2 linked regions of the Homo sapiens genome follow. The protein of the gene in region 1 interacts with the protein of each later gene in a pairwise test. Each region holds a gene or a part of one and is shown on either strand. Other genes may lie near its edges.

Region 1 (4,938 bases):
CAGAGGACCTGTGAGGGAGAGAGGGATGGCTCCTCACCCCAGCCTCTCCACAGTAAACTCGGGGTCCTCTGTTGGTCCCCACGAGCCCCTCCTTCCTCTTTCACCGCCCCCTTGGTCCCATGGCCTTTGTCCACCACGGCCCTTCATAGCCCTGCTCAGTAGAGCCCACCCCTCTCCAGCCAGGCCCCCGCCGGGGTCGCCACCTTGTCAGTTTCCAGGTGGCCTTTGTCCCCAAGATGGGGCAGGTTCCAGTGGGGAGGTGTGTGTGTGGGAGGCTGATACAGGAAGATTCCAGAAAGGAGGCCCTCAGGTTGCTGTGGTGGGGAGTGGGGAGTGGGGATCCAGCAGCCAGGAGGTGGGCTCTGCACAGCAGGCCCGCCTGGGCCACCCTCGCTCCCTCCAGCCCCTTCTTGAGCAAGACTGCCCACTCCTCCCCCTCGCCCTCTCGTGCCGCCCGAGATGCATGAGGTGCTCGTGAGAGGTCACGTGTTGTGGGAATGTGAGAGATTCTGGTGTTCTCCAAAGCCAGGGGAGGTGGCCCCACTTGGGGCTCAAGGGTGTCCTGGTCACAGGCATGCAGGCACCCTCGTGTGCACACGTGTACACACCAGAGCAGGCGGGGATTTGGGGCACCCTGCCCTCACCTGTGTGCAGCATGGGCAGCAGAGTAGCTAGGTGCCCATCGTTGGCCTCGGGCACGATGCCCAGCAGCCGGCACATGAGCTCGTACACGTGGACGCTCTCAAAGGGCTCCACCTCCAGGCCCGCCCTGAAGCTAGGGCCCACAGCGCGGAAGATGGTCTTCATGTCCATGTCCTTGTTGTCAAAGCCGTGCTCCCCATTGTTGAACTGGACGTTAATTCTCTGCCGGGGAGCGGGCAAGGGTCCTGGGTCCTTGCTGGGAGCAACAGACCCTCTCCGCCTACCCTATCCACCCTATGAACACCCCCTTAGGAAGGAGCACCAACGTGAGGGCTGGAGGGGTTCCAAGACTCAGTTTCCCCGAATTCTGAGCCTCCAAAGATCAGTCACCCTAAAGAGTGAAGTTCAGGGAAGGTCCAGTTAAATGAACGGAGACCAGACCCTGAGTAAATGGGAGTGGAGCGGGCAGCTCCAGGCTTCGGGGCCTGCCGCCTGTGCGGTGTTGAACGCTGCCTCCCATCGGTCACTTCCTTTCCGGGGATGTCTGCTCCCTAATCTGTGCTTCGCTTCCGGCTCAGCATCCCTGTGCTGTCTGCTGAGGGGAGGTTGGGCTCCTGACTCTTTCCTACCTCTTCCATGTCACCCTTGGGGCTGGACTTCTACACTTTACCCTGGACACGTAGGACGCACACACACACACACACACACACACACACACACACACACGCCTATCACACAGTGCCTGGTCATGATGGATACAGACGTGCACACACACTCCCACTGCCTGGTGCCTGAATGTGGAGGGCACACACAGATGTGCACACACCCTACCGCATAGTGAAGGAAGTGTCCCTTCGGTGCTGACACTCCTCAAACTGGGGACCAGCTAGAAACAGGAAGTGCCTCTATGGAGATGGAAGGAGAGGCCAGACGCAGTGGCTCACCCCTGTAATTCCAGCACTTTGGGAGGCCCAGGCAGGAGGATCGCTTCAGCCCAGGAGTTTGAGACCAGCCTGGCCAACATGCAAAACCCTGTCTCTACAAAAAAATACAAACATCAGCTGGGCACAGTGGCTCACACCTGAATCCCATAACTTTGGGAGGCTGAGGCGGGTGGATCGCCTGAGGCCAGAAGTTCGAGACCAGCCTGGCCAACATGGTGAAACTCTGTCTCCACTAAAAATACAAAAAATTAGTCAGGCATGGTGGCAGGCGCCTGTAATGCCTCAGAGGGCTGAGGCAGGAGAATCGCTTGAACCCAGGAGGTGGAGGATGCAGCGAGCCAAGATGGCACCATTACCCTCCAGCCTGGATGACAAGAGTGAAACTCTGTCTCAAATGAAACAAAACAAAACAAAACACACACAAAAATTAGCCAGGCATGGTGGTGTGCACCTGTGGTCTCAGCTACTCAGGAGGCTGAGGTGGAAGGATCGCTTGAGTCTGGGAGTTTAAGGCTGCAGTGAGCTGAGATCCTGCCATTGCACTCCAGCCTGGGCAACAGAGCAAGACCCTGGTCTCAAAAAAAAAAAAAGAAGACCCAGAGCCTGGGGAGGGAGCCCCTGGAGGTGGTGCCTCCAGCAGGCGACTCACCCCATGGATGACGTAGCCAAGGTCGCTGTACATCAGCAGGGGTGTGACCCTGGGGTTGTTGGCGTAGTGGAAGGCCTCGGGGAACGCCTCCTTCTTGTAGACGTGGAGCTTGGGGTGGGCGTCCTTGAGGGCATCGTACACCTTCTCCAGCCTCCCTTCTTTAGGGAGCAGCATCCCGTTTGGTCCGTAGTCCAGGAGCTCAAACTCGATGTCCCGGAAGGTGAAGTTGGGGAACTTGTGGAATTCAACCAGGTCGCCAGCCCGTTTGTCCACGGTCGTCATGCCGTGGTCGGATGTGATGATCAGGTTGAGGCGGTCTGTGAGGTGGTTGCGCGCGATGCTCTCCCGGAGGTAGCCCACGGTCCGGTCCACCTGCCGCACCATCTCCCTCCTCTCCGGGGACTCGGGGCCGTACCTGTGGCCCGTGGAGTCCGGCTCCCCGAAGTAGAGTGTGACCAGATCCAGGTCCTCCTCTGTGAACCACGCCATCACTGTGTCGATGTTCGCTCTCCACTCCGTCTCATTTTTGTAGTTGTGTGCGATGCCTTCTTTCCGGCTCCGCGTCACAGCCACCCCTTGGTAGGTGACGTTCCCGCCCGGGTAGAAGAAGGAGCCAGCCCTCAGGCCCTGCCAGACAAGGCAGCGTGAAAGACAGGACTCCTCAGTGGGCTGCCCCTTGTCTCATGCCTGTGAACACATTTGTCCCCCACGTGCCTACTTCTCTGTTCCACCCACCCATCCCTGCTCCTAGCTGCAGCTGCGGGGCCTTTAATTTCTAAAACATCCCTGATCTCATGTTCTATGGGGGTAAAACCTGATTTTATAGAGGAAACAACAGGTGCCCACTGGACTTGAGCACTAAACAAGACATCAGTATAAAGATGTTCCCAGAGGCCGGGCGCAGTGGGTCATGCCTGTAATCCCAGCACTTTGGGAGGCCAAGGCGGGTGGATCCCGAGGTCAGGAGATGGAGACCATCCTGGCTAGCACGGTGAAACCCTGTCTCTACTGAAAATACAAAAAAATTAGCCAGGCGTGGTGGCGGGCGCCTGTAGTCCCAGTTACTTGGGAGGCTGAGGCAGGAGAATAGTGTAAACCCGGGAGGCAGAGCTTGCAGTGAGCGGAGATGGCGCCACTGCACTCCAGCCTGGGCGACAGAGCGAGACTCCGTCTCAAAAAAAAAAAAAAAATGTTCCCAGATACGCAGTGTCTGCCTCATCACTGTCCATCCCACCTGCCCGTCCACTCCCCCAGGATATTCTTTCATTGGATCAAGAGCCTTGTGATGCCAGGGTCTCTACCTTGGCTTCCTGCTCACCAGCCGGTGGAAGGAGCCCTGAGTGTGTCTATGATCCTTCTGGAGTGAGGGAACCCCGGCTTGAGTGGATAACTTGGCTCTGGGGTGGGCATGGGCTCTGACATTTATTCCAGCGTCATCTTGGAAACCTCCACTGACTTTGTTTACTGGAAGCCTCGCCTCTGGGCCAGGAAGCCCCCAGAGCATTGCAAACTGGGGGTGGGTGGGGGGGTTCCTGGGTCAATACTGTAACCCACCTCTCATTTTGTCTTTGGCCCTTTAGAATTTAGCTGTTCAGCTGTGACAGGGATGTGGAAAGGGAGAAAGTCGTCTAATTGTTAAATGCTTTCTTGTTGAGTCACAGTGATCTTCCCTGTCCGACCCTCACCCCCAATGCTGCAGGGCCCAAGGGTGCAGTTCTCCCTCCGACTAGGGGGACAGAGCAATCCCTCTTGCTCCCAGGGCCCCCCAGAGAGGACCGGGCAGGGCTGTGTCCATGGGCCGAGCCGGACGTAGCTCACTGGTTAGTCCTCACCAGCACCCACCACCTGCCCCTTTTGGGGCCCTACTTCACACCCTTCTGTGCCAGGGTAGGCCAGGAGCCCCGAGACCCTGGAGTGGGGAAGGGACCTGCCGTGGATCTCACATGGTTCCAAGCCTCACCTGGGCCTAGGTGCCCCCGTGCTCTGCGATGTCAGTATGGGCGGGGGTGACATTACCTGCCTCTGGGCTGTGATCCAGATGGGCACGCTGCCGTTGTCCCACCACCTCTGGATGCCCAGCGTGGCGTGGTAGGGCAGCTTCACCTTGCTGGTGGTGTTGTAGTACATGTTGTGAACCACCCCGTGGTTCTCGATATATTTGCCTGAGGGAGGAAGAGGTGCAGAGGGCGGCGGGATGGACCGGGGTCACAGCGAAGGCCGGACCCAGGGCTGGAAGAGGCGAAGTCAAAACAGCCCAGGTTTCCCTGTGTGCTGGGTGGGGAGTGGGCCTGGGGCAGGGCTGGGGGGAGCAGACTTCCTCCTGCACTGCCCCGTGGGAGCCAAGGTTCGAGGTCATGTCTGAGACAAATAGACACGTGTTCTTTGACCTGTTTTAGCAATCGCACTTCCACTTTCAGTTTGTCCCACAGCTGGACGGGCACACAGGCACGAATGCGTGTGCAGGGATCCTGGTGGCAGCCTTGTTTGCTTTAGCAAAAGATTGCGGGTGACCTCCACGGCCGTCAGGAAGGAACTCATTAAATAAATGATGGCCCAGCCATCAGACGAGATCCCAGGCAGGAATTTCAGTGAACTACGTGGAGCTCCAGGAGATTTTTTGAATTTATTTTTGTACAGGAAACACGTGCACATGGTACTAAGTCCAAAAGGTGCAAAAGGAGAGATGATGTGGAGAAGGTCCCT
Region 2 (4,938 bases), on another chromosome or scaffold:
AAACAAAAACAAAAAACCTTTGTGTTGGTCCGCATTCAACACGCAAGAGGCCTGCTGGCCATGGGTTGGACAAGCTTGGAATAATCTTCGGGCCACAGAGGATGGAGACCCTCTGCTCTGGAGTAGCCAGGGACTTCAGACAGACTATTTAGACTCACTTTTTCACCAAAGGCCCTACACACATCAGCTGACTGGGAGAGAATATCTTTGTAGCTTCTGATCATTCAAATATTGTCAAAACCAACCTAAATATGTTCAAAATAAGAATGTTAACTTGTATTTTTTCCAAGTATGGAAATGAACAGTACTCTTGGCAGTTAACTTCTGTTTTTATCAGGTTCTAAAGACCCAGGTAAATAAATCAATTCTGGACTCTGTATACAGGAACTATTATTTGCCAAAATGGCCCCAGAGGTTCCAGCATGGCTTAGGCAATACTCCAAAGGGCCAAAGATAGTAGTGAATTAATAGGATTAGGAAGCTGGAGAAAAAGTGAATCTCAAGTTTCAGACTGTCCCTGATGGAAGGTCACTCCACAATTCCTCAGGGAGGGCTTCCCCAACCTCCCGACCAGGTTAAATCTGCCCATTAGACACTCTGGTGTATGAAATACTTTCCTTCACGAGCAGTGGGTTATCTGTTACTAACTGATCAGTGCCATTCTTCCTACCAGATGACGTGCTTCATGAGACCAGGGGCCAGGACTGGGTTTGCTCCCCATTAGCACTGTGGTCACTTAACACTATGCCTGCCATGTAAGAGATACTCAGTATATATTTGTTTAATGAATGAATGAGGCATCTGCCTCTAAGCAACAGTATTTCTGGACACTTGGCCCATTTTGCACTATCCACGAGCTTCTGTTGCTTAGAAGAATACAGGATAGGAAAAAAAGAAAAATTGCCAAAAATCTATGGATACTGAAATACTAAGGAAAGATGCTGAGCATGTACATTCACTTTGTTTCCTACTTGTGGAATGGAAATCATCACATTGGGATCTCCCAACTTTAAAATCCGAAGTGAAGGTCTAAGCTGTCTTTGGGTTAGACTCCTGGAAAGTCTTGAGGAAATTCCTGAAGTATCTGCAGAAAGTGACAGGGGAGGGAGAATAGAAGATGGCCCAAGACTAGAGTGATGGAAGACTTGGAAACTCGAAAAGCTTTCTTCTAACTAACTGGGACTTTGTCTACATGCCAGCTACAGGCTCAGGCACACATGAAGAGAATAATGAGATGAATGGGAGGACTGGAAAGTGGAGGATTTAAATGCTTAGGAAAGGAGCCAATGAAAGCTGACACAAGGACAGGAGGGACCTAGCAACCAAGCGCCGGCTCTCATCACATCAGCAGCAGCATGTCCTACAGCCTTCAGGAAAAGAACAAAAAGGTCAGGGAGGAAAATGACACATCTCAGAACCAAAGGGCAATTCATTATGAGGCTAAGGAACAAAGGAGAAGTCAACCAGGGAATATGCTGAAGAAACGGTGATTATGAAGTCACTGGGGAAGACTGAGAGGCATTTTGGCTGTAGTTCCAATGACTAGAATGAAGGATGATGTGAAATGCTTTTGGATTGGGAAGATTTATTATTTTGGAAAAAAAATAGCTCAAGGAAAAACAAATGGCAAAATTCCTGCCTGAATTTTGAAGTAGTGTCACTAGCAGGATGAGGTTCAATTTATACATTCTTTAGAAATGAAATGGCCCTTGGAAAAGACATAGTGGTAAGATTCGCAGGACATTTCCAGCCTTACGGAAGCTGAGTAGCATGCTGATAGTAAAATTAAGTTTCAGTTTTAGATAGACTGACATTTGAAATTAACAAAAAAAAAAGTAAAGGGAAAAAATTAAAAGACCCTGAACTGACAAAAAAAAAGAAAAAAAAAAGCAACTACTGTCTTTTTTTTTTAAATTAAATGTCATCACAAACAAAAAAAAAAAGGTGAAAGTTGAGTTGTATTTTGGGCAATCTTACTGAGTTTACAAAATGTTTAGTTCATAGCAGGTTTCAGTTTGGACATGAACAGTTTGTAAATATTTACATAAAATTTAAAGATAGGAGGACAGCAGAGGTCATATATTGCTATTAACAATACAGAAGCGATTTTCCGTCATTCCCAAGGCCTTGGTGCTGCGTTCCCATATGTGGCCCCAGCTCTGCCAAAAGCTTGTCTTCTTTTCCAAAGAAATTCCAATTTTTGCAACCAGCATTGACTTCTGAACTGTGAGTACCTCTGACAGGGTCATATGTCGCTGAAACTTCTTCAACATCCAGACAGGGAAAGGAGAAAAACAGGGAGGCAGATTTACAGCGTCTGCTATCTGAATTGCAGATTTTGACAAATATGTTACATTTTATATTGTTCTCTGTTCTATGTGAGGGCAGGGACCATGTTCTCTGTATGTCACAGTCCTACACCATGCCCAGTCATTGATTCAGGACTGGACTGTGTAATGGAATGGGGAAATAACCTTCAGACATTCAAGAAAACATGCACTATATTCAGATTAAGTTCATTCCAACATGAGATTAGTTCTTCCAACTCTGCAGAATGGGCAGGCACGACACCTACTTCAAAGGGTTGCTTTGAGGAATCAATGAAGTACATTCAGGCAAGGTAGTCAGCACTGGGTCTGGCACATGGTGCGGATTCAGTAAATCAAAACTATTATTTTGGTGAGTGTTCTCAAATGTCAAACTCCCATGGAGGTCCTCAGGCATTACCCAGCCAAGTTACCCCATCTGGTCAGTAACAACTAAATAGAGGGCAGGTGGTTCAAAAGTAATGGATTATTCACCTGCAAGGAATCACACTGTACTCATGGTATTAAATTATTCGGCCTTTCATGTCGAATTCTCTGTTAAAAAGGAAGCTGATCAATCCCTGAGTGGGACTCAATGTTGATTTGAAGTTTTGTTTTTTTGGCATCTTTCTATTTTCCAGGTAGTTGTAACCATTCATTGGGTGCATACTCACAAATCATCCACTATATGCCAGGCCTTTAGAAAACAGAGACACACAAAGATATTAAACAAAAAAAGATGTTTCAGTCTGTTCAGTAGTGGGAGACAAGCAGCCCCCAGGCCGACACTAGCTCTTACATATGCTTTCATCCAAAAATTTTTTAAAGATTTGAGCCAATATTTAAAAATCAGGAAATTCCACATAAATATCCAATATTCAGCTTCCCCTGGAAAAATCAAATGATGTGGCAACACAAAGCCAGTAGTCCTACCAACTGTTCCCTAGCAAGAGTCTACAATGAGTTGAGTAGGGGCGGCCTGCCACTCCACACTATGCCCTGCTCCTCACCAGAACCAGGTAAGTACATAATTTGCAGGGCTCAGTGAAAAATGAAAACGAGGGGCCCTTTGTTCAAAAATTATTAAGAATTTCCGAAGAAAACAGCAGAACCTTATACCAAATATGAGGTCCTTCTGAGCAGGGAAGAGGAAGGGGGCCTATGTAACTGCACAGGTCTTATGCCCATGAAGCTAGTACTGGCTCTCACCCCCTGGACACACAGGAAGATATTTATTTATCTAAGTATTCTCTCATTCATTAACAATCAAGCCTGCATTTACAATAAGCTAGATGTCACACCCCTGAAATCTGAGGTTCAAAAACTAGAGTAGAGGGGCCAGGCACAGCAGAGATAGAGAGCCACTAGGGTCTCTTTCCTTTTTGTTAAGACTGGATCCACACCAGAGACACTGAAAGTTAATCCAAGTAAAATTAAACTGCTCTCAACAATACAGATTGGCTTGAGCCCTTTTGTTGGCATCACAGGAGCCTCGATTAGGAATTCTGAGAAACAGCTCACAAGCGCTAATGAATAACTAAGTCCTGTCGGCTGTGCAGACAGTGGGCCCAGAAGTGAAGGGCTGGCCTAGGAGAGATCTGAACATGAACCTGACCATCTGGCCCTCTGTGACTCACTTTGATCACAAAATGAATTGCAACAAATTGAAGAGCACATGGCTAGAGTTAATTGTCTCATCTGTAATCTGAATCTACTTTTAAGCAGTTATTATTACCCTCTATCAGGTGGAAACATTTCCTACCATCACTGCAAAGTGCATTTTCCTGATGAACTATAATGGATCATTAAATTCCATATCTGAATAACAATACTGTGCACTTATTCAGTGCCTTTCATCCAGGGATTTCAAGGCAGTTTGCAAATAATTAAGCCCCTTACACAGCAGCCAGAGGTGAGCTACTGGAAAAGAATTGCCTGAAGATACTAAGTCAAAGGGCATAATTCAATAGGAAAATAATAAATGGCTTTCTCCCAGGCACTGGTAATACAGAAAGTGAATCCTGATCCCCTCCCTCTCTTTCACCTCACCCCTTCTTCTTCATAGCAGATCCTGACATGCAACATACAAAGAACCAAAAAAGTAACTAACAGGAGTGTTCACAATTTAGCTATGAGTTCAGACACACACTTAACTGAGAAGTGTGTGTCTCCATGTAATCCTGGCAAACACACTACCAACTGACATTTCAGTCCACCTGCAGAATAGACAGACAGCAGAAGAATTTACTCAACACATTCATGATTACCAAATGGCAAACCTGAAGCCTCCTGCAATGCAAAACGAAAATACGGCTCTGCACCAATAAAGTTATGTTCTAACAAAAATACTTTATTCCATGGTTGTGTGTTCCATTTCTGGGACTTCGCTCTATTTCAATGATATTCAGGTTTCGAGAGTAAAAAAAACGTTGGAAATGGGCAATCAATAAATTTCTTTCAAAAACCAGAATACTAGAAGGGAAAACATTTCAGCCACTCAAAGTTTTGTGGTGAAATTATAAACTCCAGAAAAACTGAATTTATAATGGAAATGCTGACAGACCTTTCAGTGGAGCAGTTTGAACGCAACACTGTAATTTGGCAATCTCTCTTACAGACTAAAGACTAATTC

What was found. Proteins that work in one complex are often made in the same cells at the same time.
Region 2: the proteins of ENPP7 (region 1) and BACH2 interact in binary tests that used the Homo sapiens proteins (3 or more experiments, as listed by UniProt).

Annotation. Positions count from the first base shown.
Region 1 is NC_000017.11:79,732,967-79,737,904, reverse strand, and holds part of ENPP7 (ectonucleotide pyrophosphatase/phosphodiesterase family member 7 precursor), read right to left. Parts: intron 4,398-4,938; coding exon 4,252-4,397; intron 2,863-4,251; coding exon 2,236-2,862; intron 865-2,235; coding exon 645-864; intron 9-644; coding exon of another isoform or gene 1-8. UniProt on the Homo sapiens protein: Choline-specific phosphodiesterase that hydrolyzes sphingomyelin releasing the ceramide and phosphocholine and therefore is involved in sphingomyelin digestion, ceramide formation, and fatty acid (FA) absorption in the gastrointestinal tract.
Region 2 is NC_000006.12:90,289,682-90,294,619, forward strand, and holds part of BACH2 (transcription regulator protein BACH2), read right to left. Parts: exon of another isoform or gene 2,802-4,938; intron 2,265-2,801; exon of another isoform or gene 1,569-2,264; intron 1-1,568. UniProt on the Homo sapiens protein: Transcriptional regulator that acts as a repressor or activator. Binds to Maf recognition elements (MARE). Plays an important role in coordinating transcription activation and repression by MAFK.